2 separate regions of the Homo sapiens genome follow, and region 2 is linked to region 1. The links come from fine-mapping of genetic effects on gene expression. A gene starts in region 1. The other region holds a variant in brackets. All regions are shown on one strand. Distances are between the middles of the regions.

Region 1 (2,901 bases):
GTTATCCCACTCCAGTGCCCAAGGCAGGGACCTGGGGTTCACTGTCCCTCTTCCCTGTCCCTTACTTGCCAACTGATACCCAATTTTCAAGCCCTGGCCACTCCCTGAATATCTCTGAAAATCCTCTGACATCTCCTGGCTCCCTACTGCAGGACAATCTTGCCCCACACCTACCCCAGGAGGCTGGTCACCCCTCTGGACACACACCTCCTGGGTTCCCCATGGCCCCTCTGGCAGACCAGATTCAATGCCCACAGACCTAAGTCTCAAGGTGCCACTCAGCATCCTCAGGAACAGGCAGGGCCTTTGCCTCCTCTGTGCCCTGGCCCAGCCATCCCTCCTCCCTTCCCCACCCATCCCATGCGTGTTCCATTCAGTACCAAATCACACAGCCAGGCCATCAGGCCATTCCCTCCAACAATCAGCCCACAGGTCCAAAACTCCACAGCACGTAAGTATCAAACAACTTCATCATTTATCATGTTGCCTGAAATTACTGGCTCCTGGAAGCTCACCAGCAAGAAAAAGCCTGAATTTCCTCCTTGGCCTGACCTGGGTGCTGGGCTAGAGGAGGAGCTGGGGTGGGAGGGTCTGGCTTTGCCCAATAGGAAAAGAGCAGGAGATCACACTCCTAAGGCAGGTGTTCTTTCCCTCTGACAATCCAATACAATGCATGCACACACATATCATTAGTTATTGATGATAACTAATTGTCATGCAAACCTGGACGTTCAAGCAATCCATGTCAGGACTGGGCCATGGGGAAAGGGGGCCTCCCTCTGACCAAAGGGGTGAATTCTGTCCCCTTGTCTGAGGGCAAGACCTTTCTGTAAGTCCTTTAGCCTGTTGGGGATGTGGATTTGGACCCCATGGGGATGGAAGGGAGGAGCCCCAAAGAAGAACCCTCTGTATGTTCTTTATAAACCCCCTGGAGTTCTCTCACCCCCCTCAGGTTCCCTAGACCCACCCCAGGCCCCCTCAGCCTCCCCATCTCAGACTCCCAGATTCACCTAAGTCCCCCACCCAGAGCCTCCCACAGTCTCTACTCCTTCCAGCGCCCCTCAGCACGCTCTCAGGACCACCTTTAGCCACCTTGGGGCCCTTCAGCACCTCCCAGGATGCCTTGGGCCTTAGCCCCTTCCTCAGAGCCCCCAAGACACCTCACCACCCTCAGACTGGCCATGGCATGGCCCCTGCTCAGGCCCTCTCTGCTGCCCAGGCCCTTTGGCATCCCCAGTTGCCCCACGGCCCACCACAGTCAAGAGCCCCTCGGTTTCCCTTCAGACCCCCAGGATTCTCAGGTCCCTAGGGCCGCCTGCAGACGCCTCGAGGTCCTGGGGCACCCAGCCCCCCTCCAGCCACCCCCTCAGTAGCCCTCGGCTCCTCCAGTACCCCACGGCCCCGTAAAGTCCAAATTCTCAGCGAAAGACCCTCGAGCCGTGCCAGGCCTCCCCTCAACCCCTCAGGACGCCCAAGACTGCCCACAGGTTTCCTGGGCTCCAAGACAGGTGCAGGTCTATCCTGCGGGCCGGGTCTCACCTGTTCGGGCGCTCGGGGCCCGGGCCCGCGCCGAAAGCGCCGCCGCCACCAGCACCACCGCTGCTACCGCCGGACTCCGCCATCTTCCCCCCGCCGTCGCGCGTTCGAGTGACGGGAGCCGCGCGCGCAGGCCCGGGAAACCGAGACGCGGGGGGCGGGGCGGGGCCAGGTCTGCGGAGGGGCGGGGCCGGGACCAGAAACCAAGGATTGGGGCGGGCCCGGAATCGGAGGGGCGTGGTCTACGGAGGGCCGGGGCGGGTCTGGGATAAAGGGAGGGGCCTGCTATGCAGAGAGGTGGGTCCAGGGCGGGGCCTGGGCTAGGGGTGCCGGATTGGGGCGGGACCCTGGCGTGAGGGGCGGAACCAAGTCTGAAAGGGAAGCGGTTCTGGGCTGAGAGGGCGTATTGTCTGTGGATAGGTGGGGACGGGGCGAAGCAGGACAAGTAGGCGCAGGATGGGGTTGGTCCCTGGGCTGAGGAGTGGGGCGGGGTCTGAAGAAGGGGCAGGCCCAGGGCAAGAGGAGGAGGGACAAGGGTCCGGCCTGCGGAGGAGGCGGGGCGCAGGATAAAGGGCGGGGCCAGGTGTGAGAAGGGACAAGGTGGAGGTTAGGAATGCGGTGGGGGAGTGGTCGGGGAGGTAGAAAGGAGAAGATGGGTCTGAGGTTGGGCGGGTCTGGGCAGGAGAGAGGAGGAATCTGGGGATGGATGTGGTCAAGCGAAGAGAGGGCCTGGTCTGAGGAAGGGCGGGGCCTGGGCGAGGGGTGGAGTCTGGTTGGAAGGAGGGCGGGGAAGATCAGGGGTGTGTGCGTGGAGGGGGCGAGGGATTGGCGGGGCCGGGGGGGCGGAGCCTCATCTGATGGGGGTGGGGCCGGGCTAAGTGAGCGGCGGATCTGAGGAGGGGCGGGGCACGTGCAGGTGTTAAGGAGTGTCTGTGAGTGCCCTGGGGCGCTGGCAGGCGTGCCCCGGGCGTTGGCTGGGCGTGGTTATACTTTGAGGCGTTGGAGCCACAGGGAAGTGAGTTATAGGTAGGGTGGGAGGGAGGGTGAGATGGAGCATGGAGAAATGGGTCTCTAAGCTCTGAGAACCACACCCTCCCTCTCCCCACCCTGCACACCCCGACTCCAGTCTTACCTCCTTCCCAGGCCTCTCTCAGGGGCGAAACTCACCCATGCCCAGGCCTCAGACTTCCAGCCCCTCATGGTTCCCCACCCTCCCCTGACATACCCTCTTCAGAGCCTCCACCCTGAGACCCCAATCATCTGGCCTTAGGTTCCCACCACCTGCTTCATACACCAATTCTGGTTTCTCATACTCTAAAACCCTGCACATCCAATTATCTCCCATTCTCTACTCAAAACTCATCT
Region 2 (2,901 bases), 34 kb before region 1:
TCAAGCTTGCTGGCCAGAGCTGGGAAACACGCCCAGATTACAAACAACCCCGGCAAAAGGCATTGCCAAGAACGGCTCAGCTGAATCTTAACCCCAGAGGCTGGGCACGTTGCTGCTGGCACCAAATCAGGGATCTGATGGTGAGGAGGGAGGAATGGCTGCCCGGCTGGCCACCAGAATGAGAGCGACAGGAAGACGAGAACAAAGCAGGGGCCTTGCTGGGGGTGGAGCACGGCTTGGTGCCCTCCTTTCCCCGGGGTTTGCACACAGAAGGTGCCCACGGCCACTAGTGTGAAGAAGGCTGCCCTCACCTTCCCGCCCCAGCACCTCTCCTTTGTGCAGCAAACATTCGAGCTATGCTCCGTCGGTGCCAGGCTCTGTGTTAGGCGCCAGGCCGCTGAGATCCACGGTCAGGCGCCCCGAGGAAGAGCAGGGTCCGAGGCTGCACCGTGCAAAGTGAATCTCCAGGGCCCGTGAGAACGGACGAGCTGGAGCTGCTTCCTCGGAGACAGAGCCAGGGGCAGGTTTCCAAGCTGGCCAGGTCCGGGGCGGATTCCCACCTCACACGGCTCCCCAGAGGCCCCCTTGGCCCTCACTTGCTGAGAGGCCCCAGAAGTCGCACTTGGCCTCCCTCTTGCGGGCCTGCATCTGACCGTCCCGAGAGACAGCGTTTTCCCACAGCCTGAGCCCAGGTGCAAGGGAGGCTCCTGCAGCCGGCGTCCAGGCCTCAGCGAGTAGGCAGGGCATCTGGAAGTAGACAGGCTTCCCCCAGGCTCGGGGCGGTGCCGGGCTCCAGACCCCTTTGGGCCGCCAGGCAGATTGGGCTACGCTGGTCCAGGGGTGCATGCACAGATATGTGTGTGTGTGCATATGTGTGAGCTTGTGTTTCACTGTGTGCGGGTGAGCGTGTGAACGCGCTGCAATGCGTGGGTATGGGCAAGCATGCGTGTGCAGGCGTGCACGAGCACGGCCATGTGAATGTGCGTGTTGCGGCATGCGTGTGCAGGTGTGTGCATGAGCATGTGCGAGTGTGCGCAGGCATATTCTGCCTCTGAAGGACACAAACGTTCACAAAGTGAAGATTCAAGCCAGTTTCTGCTAAATTAAAAACAGCTTTTTCATGTTTAAAGTTTACAATACGAAAAATAATTTTCCTTTCTTGGGGGGATGCGGGGGGAGGCTGAGGGAGGGGCAGGGGGCCCCACGAACATTCCACGAACCGGCCTAGACGGTTATGCACAATCGATCCGGTTAGATACAGCAGCGCCCCCCGCCCTGGGCCGGCGCCCCTGCCAGCTCACTGGGGACAAGATGTTCTGAGGTGTGAGCTGATCCAGGGGACTTGCAGCTGGCAAAGCTTCTCACTGCTCCCCTGAAGGGGCCATGCCTCCAGTGGGGAAGGGTTCTCTTTGGGGGAGCTCAGGTC[G/A]GGGGTGGGGCTGGAATGTTCTGGTAAGTCCCCAGGGAACTCGGCTTTTGTCTCGATGCCCCTGACAGTGTGGGCTTCTTTTAGGTTCCCAACCATGTTCCTATTTTAGCACTGCCCACCCCCTCAGCCTCTAGTGTTACCCCAGCCCCGATGGCTGCCACACAGGAGCGCCAGGCATGCAGGCACAGCAACTTATGGAGATCCATGTGTGTGTGATATCCCAGGGCCTCCCTTCTGGGAAGGCCGTCCGGGAACATCAGGCTTTCTCTGCTAACCTGCAACTGATAAGTGGCCTGCTCTGGGCAGCCCAGTTCATAGTTTGGCCGGCCATGATGAGAATAGGGGGCTGAAGGCTCTTCCAAAGTGCCAAGGTTGGTCCGGGCATGGTGGCTCACACCTGTAATCCCAGCACTTTGGGAGGCAGAGGCAGGTGGATCACCTGAGGTCAAGAGTTCAAGGCCAGCCTGGCCAACATGGTGAAACCCCGTCTGTACTAAAAATACAAAAATTAGCCGGGTGTGGTGGTGTGTGTCTGCGTCTGTAATCCTGGCTACTTGGGAGGCTGAGGCAGGTGAATTGCTTGAACCCAGGAGGCAGAGGTTGCAGTGAGCCGAGATCACGCCACTGCACTCCAGCCTGGGTGACAGAGCGAGGCTCCGTCTCAAAAAAACAAAAAAACCAACAACAAAAAACGCCAGGGTGAAAGTCCTGGCCACGCTTCCTGCTGCCTCTGCGCCCCTGAGCCAAAGCCCAGCCCACTGCCGACTCCTCTGAAAGGCTGGAAAAGGTTGAGGCGGGGGAGAGGAGCCCCCAGACACGCGGAGGACACACGAGGAATCTGTGACCAATCAGACCCAAGCCGCACAAGCTCAGTGCTGGGCCGGCTCCATCTCTTCACCATAACATTTTTATTAAATAAAGGGAAATATTAGGAGACGATGTCTGCTAAGATAGGAGGTTAATTCTTTACATGGTGAGTGGGTCACAGAGACAAGACATCAATCGTCTGTTAGCAGCGAGAGAGACACTTTAAGTTGCCCCAAGAGTACAAATCCCATCTATGAGACAGCAGTGCTGGCTTCTTAAAAACAGTAAAACCAATCAAAAAGAAAAGATTTAGAGGTTCAGACATTAGAACAAATGTGGCCAGAGATACCACAGAGCCCTTGAAGGGAAAGGCCTCACTGCTGGCTCCGTAGCAATGTTGACCCAAAAACAGGGCAGGCCAGGGAGTGGCAGGGCGCGGAGGGGTGGAAAGGAGGGAGGAGAAAAAAGACACCCCACCAGACCTGCGGCAAGCGCCACTATGGGATTCTGAAGTTAGCGTCGCCCTCCAATTGCGGGAAGGGGACTGCCTGGCCAACAGGGCAAATGTAGAGGGCCGGGATGTCTCAGCCAGTTAAGGCCCCACAAGATGCTCAGTGCCAAATGGAAGGTCCCAAGCCCCTAAGGAGCGTTTCTAGGAGTTGATATGG

What was found. PIP is the estimated chance that this variant, and not a neighbour inherited with it, causes the effect.
Region 2: its variant is fine-mapped to the expression of KLHL26 in cerebellum (GTEx, PIP above 0.99).

What each region holds. Positions count from the first base shown.
Region 1 is chr19:18,635,776-18,638,676 of GRCh38, reverse strand. It overlaps KLHL26 (kelch like family member 26), which reads right to left and starts at 1,649. Exons shown (of 3, transcript NM_018316.3): 1 at 1,540-1,649. The coding sequence starts at 1,622. RefSeq lists enhancers at 696-1,210, 1,211-1,725, 1,684-1,978 and silencers at 1,465-1,974, 2,025-2,184, 2,195-2,274, 2,315-2,504.
Region 2 is chr19:18,669,913-18,672,813 of GRCh38, reverse strand. KLHL26 (kelch like family member 26) reads right to left here. Exons shown (of 3, transcript NM_018316.3): 3 at 1,093-2,901. Among named protein-coding and RNA genes, the nearest start is that of CRTC1, 12 kb to the left of the region's middle. RefSeq lists an enhancer at 1-435. The variant G/A (reference allele first, on the strand shown) is at 1,427.